Linked DNA regions of Homo sapiens. The protein of the gene in region 2 purifies or fractionates together with the protein of the main gene of each other region. This does not show direct contact. Each region holds a gene or a part of one and is shown on either strand. Other genes may lie near its edges.

Region 1 (3,826 bases), on a different chromosome or scaffold from region 2:
TTCAATATGGTTACTACCAAGGGACTCTCAGAAATGGCTACTAAAAGCCACTGAGAAGGCCTAGATCATTCATATTGTACATTGACATTTTTACATAAATGGAATTAATACTACTTACCATTTGAGTAAAGAACACAAGGAATTGAAGAGTCTGTGAAAATATGTCCTGTTTGTGAAAGGTGAAACTGTCCAATCCATGTCCAATCAATGTCAGTCGTCCAGTATTGGTGGTGATTATTAAACTTATTGGAGGTACAACTTTACCTCCAATAAGCTTACCTTTACAAGCTTCTGCTTTCCCTGCTTCATCTCTGTTATGGGCTATCAGTCCAGCTTGGTGTGAAAATGAGACTATATCTATACCACAGCCCCCAATCCTTTCAAAGGCTTTGCATGTATTTCAGCTACAAGTGACAAGGATATTAGGGATTTAAAAGGATAAGAGAGTGGGAAAGATGTATAAGGAAGTGCCTTTGTCAAAAGGCAGCAAAAAGTATAATGATATAAACATAATATGAAATAAGCAAATTTTAGAATACTTTGAAACAGATTTATAGAGGAATACATAGTAAATAGTTATAGACACACATTTGGGGCATTTTTAATAAGGTTAGCAAGAAGAAATTTGCATGAGTAATGAGCAATGTGAAATGGGCATTATACTTTTGTTCAGTAAAGCCCAAAATCTAGGCCAATGGTTCTCAAAGTGCAGTTCCAGGAGCAGCAACAGCAGCATCCCTGGAGAGGGAGAAAGAGAGAGAGAGAGAGTGTATGTGTGTGTGTGTGTGTGTGTGTGTGTGTGTGTGTGTGTATGTGCATTCCAGTGATGTTACTCCTTCAAGCCCCTGAATCACTATAGCCACGACTCTCCAACTGATTCCAACCTTTACCATTATTCTGGCTCTCATCATAAGGACCAGTCTCTGGCCAAGAGGTGTATATTGTTATCTTGGTCAGGCATATGTTTGCTTGGTTTTAAGAAATTATCAGATTGAGGAGTCTCATGTTTTATGGGACTCCGGTGCATATGCTCGAAAAAAATTAAAAAGAACTTATCATATTGGATCAACAAATTGCTCAACCTGCAAAATCTTTGATTAGACTTAGCCAGCCCATCTGGCCTGCTTTGGGTTTAAAAAAAAAAAAAAGATTTTTTTTAACTCACAAATGGAAAAAAGGGAAAGGTGTTAAGTTTGTTTGGTATTGCCAGCTCTTAAATACCTGTCTTTACCGTGGTGGCTGTTCTCCAGTAAGGCTCTGGCAGAAGTATATTTGATTTTAAGATTTTTGCCTAAATAGTAGAATTTGATAGCAACGAACTCCAAAACAAAATCTGAACTGGAACAACTAGTTAACCCCTCTCAGCCTCTTTGTAATGCCAAGCTTTATAGACATTTATTCCTTAGGTGGTCTTGAGCTTTTTCTAACATCCAATTTTATAAAATGTTGTGCATGCAAACGCAGCATTGTGCTCATTGTACAAGTCACCTCAAACTCATTCCTTCCCCCATGTGTATCATGGCGAAGAAATATCAATATATGTATGTGCTGAGGTCTTCTGATGAATTGTAAATTACAAACCTTTTCATTCATTTTTAAATGAGATATATTTACCCTGGCTAGTGGTTAAAGTTTTATTCTTTTTATTATATTTCACTGCTACTTTTTTCTACTGACTCCAAAGCTTACTTTGGGCTATATTTCTTATTTCTAGATTGTTGTATTTATCTTATTTCTATATTTATCTGCAGTCTTGGAATGTTAGAGCTGAAAGGGACCAACCTCTCTCATTTCACACATGAGGAAGCTGAGGCCCAGAAAGGTCAAATAACTTATATACAAGGTCACACAGTGAGTCAGTGGTGGGGCCCAGCCTCAATTCCAGGTCTCCTGCCCTTGGGCCCAATCTGGTTTCATTTAAAGCACTACAATTTATAGAAGACCCACAGCTGGCTTCTACTTTTATGACACATGAATTTCCCAGGTATTTCAATGAACTAATATATATGCTTTAAGGGAAAATGTTCAAGAGTTCTTTAATTCATTAATCCAAAGACAAATTGGATTTTCAGTTTATAAACATTAGTTTCCCTCCAAATTCAATATGTGCACCCTACTTAGTACAATGGATGTTTTCCCTAAAAGTTGTGTGAAAAATGAGTTTTTTAGATATCAAGTATCATTTTTTAGAGGTAAACTTCCTATGTAAGGGAACCTTCTGGTGACTTCTTTTTGAAAAACCGAGATTCCTCTTGTCATTGTCCCATAATGTCTCTACTTTTTTTAGTGCAAACTTTTGTATTTGGTGTTTATTTAAAAGTAGGGTACAACCCAACCAATATTAGCTTTCCCAGAGTCTACTTTAGCCTTCCCTTCTTAATCTTTATGAGAAATTTTCAGACTGTTAAATGCTCATGAGATATTTAGTTGTGTTCTAGAAATTTCACCTGGCTTGATATTCTGTCAATCCCTGGGCTCAAATTCCAGCTCCATCTTATCAAACAATAACAGAATTCCCTAATCAGTACTAAGCTCCGCATGCAGTCTCTTTTCCAGAACATTCTTTGCCTAATGTTCCTTAGTGTGGCTCTCTCTTTAGTTGGGGCCTCCTTCCTTAGTACATGCATACCTTACTATTCTGTGGAATTGCAAGCCATGCATCTTTTAGAGCCACACTAGTCAAATTGATTGGCATTTCCATTTATTTTCCATTGTTCCCTTGTTTCTCCTGGACTTCCTCTCGTTTCTCTTTTCGAGGATGCTTAGAGGCTTCTCACCAGAGATTGGTGAGGTTTCCCCCATCATCTAGATGGGAGATTGACAAATTCTGTAAAGGTTAAGACAGTAACTATTTTAGGCTTTGTGGGCTACATGTGGTCTCTGTAGCACATTCTTCTTTGTTGTTGCTGTTTGTTCATTCGTTTGTTTTGCAACCTTTGGATAATGTAAACCACTCTCTTTTTTTTTGACAGAGTCTCTCTCTGTAGCCAGGCTGGAGGGCAATTGTACAATCTCGGCTCATTACAACCTCCACCTCCCGGGTTCAGGCAATTCTCCTGCCTCAGCTTCCCGAGTAGCTGGGACTATAGGTGCGTGCCACCATGCCCAGCTAATATTTTTTTTTTTTTTGTATTTTTAGTAGAGGCAGAGTTTCACCATGTTGGCCAGGATGTTCTCGATCTCCTGACCTTGTGATCCGCCCACCTCGGCCTCCCAAAGTGCTGGGATTACAGGTGTGAGCTACCGCACCCTGCCAATATAAACTATTCTTAGCTCATGGGCTATGCAAAGCCTTAGGCTGACCCCTGATCCAGACTGTCTTCTGAGACAAGCATTTCTGTGAGCTGCCCCATGTGATAACTGAGTTGTGCAGTAGCTGATGTGGTTTATTGCCTTCCCATCTACTGCATTGTCAGACCAGACTGACTGCACAGGAGCAGGTGGAGGGGGGCTGCATATGCCAACCATTACTCTTCAATAGAGTGTCCTTCATGAGCTCTCTCTCTCTCTCATTACTGACTACCTCAGTGTAGAAACCCTCATTTTTTTCCCCAGACCTATCCTTGTTACCCAATGTGCCTCTGCTTCCCTGGGTTTGGGATAAACTGGAAGGAGAGAATTTCTGAGTTCTCTTACTTATTTTGTTCCATAACTTCTCCCTCATATCTGTGGTTGGAGACTCCCACCCTTGTCCACCCTTTCCTGCCTCATACTAGTATCATGAGTTTAGGGCTGTCGTTGGAAAGTCTGGCAGCCCAGGCCATAGGATTCCAGTTCAGCCTACGATTTCCTAGGGAAATCACCAGGTTCCAAAGGCTGGTTTTTA
Region 2 (3,826 bases):
TTGTTCTGGGAAGAATCTCATTCAACTGCATACAACCTCATAATGGTTAAGATTTTTCTTTTCCAATTAATAGTGAGAAAATAAGTCATAGGCAAAACCCTAGAAGGTCTCTAGTTATTTTAACCTGCAGAGAAGAAAACTTTGGGGGATATACTATAAGGATGTAAATCTATATGAAGAGATATTTTCCAGCTACCTTTCCCCCACAGATCTGGAAATCATGAAATAGTTAAAAGGGTACAGGCTTTGAGTCAACAGTTTATCCACATATGAACTCCACTTCTACTCCTTAATGCCTATGTGATCTCAGATGAGTCCCTTAATTTCTTAAGGATCAGTGTCTTCATCTATAAAGTTAAACATAATAATAGCTATCTGCTAGAAGACTGTGATAATTAAATATGATAAAGTAAAGAAAGTGCCTGAAACATAGCAATTTTTCACTCCTCCAAAATATTTATTGAATTAATGAAATTCTGATCATTAATTTTCAGTTTCCTTTGCCAATGCCATCATTTACAATCAACACCATTACCCTGAACTATGTGCATAAAAGAGAATGGAATCTAGTTCCAGGAAGCAGCCAAAAATTTTCTAGTTACAGAATGAATTAGGCAAAATACGTATGACATTAACTGTATGGAAATCTCGCTGAAGAGACTTTTTGGAGAAAATTAGGTAATTGTAAAAAGTTGTTTATGGCTAGAAATGGGAAGACCAACAAGTTGAGCCCATGAGGTCCCAATAAGCCTCATGATTCCATAGTAACATTAACAAATGGGCTGTTATTATCAAAGAAAAAATCATAGGGATCAATCTGTGTTAAAAAACAAGAGACTTGGCCAGTCCATGGTGACTCATACCTATAATCCCAGCACTGTGGGAGGCCAAGGCAGGAGGACTGCTTGAGCTCAGGAATTCGAGACTAGCTGGGGCAACATAAGGAGACCTAGTCCCTACAAAAAAAATAAAAAGAAATTAGCTGGGCCCCATGGTGGTGCACACCTGTGGTCCCGGCTATTCAGGAGGCTGAGATAGGAAGATTACTTGAACCTGAGAGGTTAAGGCTACAGTGACCCATGACTGCACCGCTCAACTCCAGCTTGGGCAACAGAGCAAGACCCTGTCTCAAAAAAACAAACAAAAAACCCACCCAAACACACACAAAAAAACAAGATTATAAATCCAAAATGACACAAAGGTTTCAGTGTAAAAACTCATGAGAGAATGCACATGGATCTCACAAATCCATGCATTCATATGCCGGCCTCAACCGTCTTTTCTAACTGAGCATATTATATAATAGTAATTACCTATTAAGGAGGTCTTTTCCCTGCAAAGTTTGAAAGTTGAGACTGCAATTCAGTAAATGAGTCAGTATAGAGATAATACAAATATTTCTATTAGGTACAACTTTATAAATTTTTAGCGAGAATATTTACCTGAGCAACTCTTATCTCTGCTTTCATCAAGCTCAGTACTAGTAGTAGCCACTGTATCAGCCAAAGCTACAAGGAACATCTGCTCCAAACGGGTAAGGCCTGGTAGACTTGAGTGCATAAGATGACTTGAAAGTACCCTTGCATGTTCTTGGCCAAAGTAAGCTGGTCCATATTGAGAAAGATTTATTACTTTTGATTTGTTTTCTCTCTTTTCAGGCTCTAAATCAATATCATCCGTTGGTATATCCTGGATTTGAAACAGCTCTGAATACTGATCCTCTGGTTGACTTACTGTCTGATCTTCATAGCTCTGTGGTATCTTTGTACTTTCTTCTGAAATTCTGTAGGATGTATCTTGATCTGCAGCAAGTAATGCATATAGTGGTAGTGGAGGGATAGAATCTATCTCAGTATAATCTCGAGTACCATCTTTTCCTACGGTGACTGTTTCCTTTGCTGTACTGCCACTTACACTAATAGTTCGAGAGAGATGTCGCTTAGTTCCTTCTCCAGCATCAGGATCTCTAACTATTGCTACTTCACCTGCAATACATTTTACTAAATGAGAGAGAATGGCTTTAGCCCTTCGCACTTTCCCTAAATCCATCAATTCTAACAGCTGAGTTGGATGATATTGTGGAAGAGTAGGGGAAAGTACATGTGCAGCCTCAAATAAGCCACCATCTTGAATTACAGTTGGTGAACAAAAAACATCATCAGAAATAGCTGTTCCTTCAACAACACTTTTTCTTGCCAGCATATTAGATTTAAAGGTCGAATGATCTTGCATTGCTGCCTCTTCTGCATTAGAACTATCAGCTTCAGTGTCTCCAAATTTGACAGCATGCTTCCACTGTGCATATACATGCATTTCACAATCCATTCCTACCACCAATATCCCATCTCTTACCCAAGAGAGAGAAACAGGCAGTGAAGGAGTACCATCAACAGAAGATACCAAGTCTATAGATCTAAGAAGAACCCATCTTGACTTAACTCCTTGCTTGATACTACCACCTAGTGGTAAAGTGATGACAGCTACTCCATCCTTACTGTTGGTTTGCTCAGTCACAATTCCTGAAAGCCTTCCATACATGAAGATATTCGCACCGACTCCCACTGTAAGAATGTGGGAGCCATCTTCTTTTGATACCCAGTCCAAATGTACTAAATGTTTGATATTCGGAATAAGATATCTATCCTTGCTCAAGAGTGCATCTGACTTGCTATACACAAACAGATTACTGTCGACGCTGACCCTTGAATCAAGTACACTCCCAACCTTAACCAAATCATCAAGATGAATTGTTTGTTCTAAAACCCACTCTGATCCTCCTGTAGATTCACATTCAAATATACAAACATGCATGGAAAATTCTTTAGAAACAAAACCATTATGGTGGATAGGCTGCTTATAAGCCACTGCAAGGCGACCTGTGTATGAACAGCTAACAGCAACTGGTCTTCCCACAATGCTCACTGTACTGCTATTATCTTCTCCTTCATCATTCATCAAAGGCCATCTCTTCCAATGATAAATTTCTTTCTCATCACTTTTATTACACTCTGGGTTGGCTTCCATACAACATTTCCAGAAGCGTACTTTATTGTCAGAACAAGTTGTAACCACTAAATAAGGTGCAAGGCACACTGGATAAATTGAAGAAGAACTCAGATGGCCTTAAAAAAGAAAAAGCAAATAGTTAGTTGTAATAATAATAAAGCCACAAAATAATATGGTAGTAATCAAATTCTGGAATGTGATCAATTTAAAGTCACTATGAGCTTCTTCAGAATATCTCTGCAGTCTTCCTCTTAACTAGTATCCCACTAAATGTCCATTGGCCAACATATCTATAAAGGTCTTGAAGAGCCCATCAGTGAAATCAAGGTATGCAATAATAATCACTTAATTTGTTTTTAGGTAATTAAGTTTAAATGAGGCAACCATTTAATTAAAATAAAACTCAAAAGCACTGAAACAAGTCAGCCCTTAATGTGTTTCTATTATTTATATTTACCTTCACAACATGCCTCCTTAGAATTTCATACTATATATTTAATCATTTTCATCATGAATACTTAACTGAGCTTTACAATTTGCCTTTCAAATGCCCCTAACCTTCTCTCAAATAATCCAGACCCCAGGTGGTACACCAAATTTTGTTTCAGACCGCAAAACAGACCAATAGATCTTACCCATTTTACCAAGTTTAATTCATCCTCTCTTAGCACTGAACCAGAACCCTCTTATCTATTCCTGACTGCCAAAGACTAACAATGCACATCTGTTGTCAACTGTAAGACAAGGGGATATAGAGATTAAAGATCTGAGGTCAGAAGATCTGGATTTGAGTTTCAACCCATCAATAATTTCATTAACA

The links.
Region 1: the proteins of DMXL2 (region 2) and NHSL2 purify together in Homo sapiens (co-immunoprecipitation; one large-scale study listed by IntAct). This does not show direct contact.

The regions. Positions count from the first base shown.
Region 1 is NC_000023.11:72,148,069-72,151,894, forward strand, and holds part of NHSL2 (NHS-like protein 2), read left to right. Parts: 3' UTR 1-3,826.
Region 2 is NC_000015.10:51,497,110-51,500,935, forward strand, and holds part of DMXL2 (dmX-like protein 2), read right to left. Parts: intron 3,123-3,826; coding exon 1,443-3,122; intron 1,356-1,442; coding exon of another isoform or gene 1,270-1,355; exon of another isoform or gene 1,128-1,269; intron 1-1,127. UniProt on the Homo sapiens protein: May serve as a scaffold protein for MADD and RAB3GA on synaptic vesicles. Plays a role in the brain as a key controller of neuronal and endocrine homeostatic processes.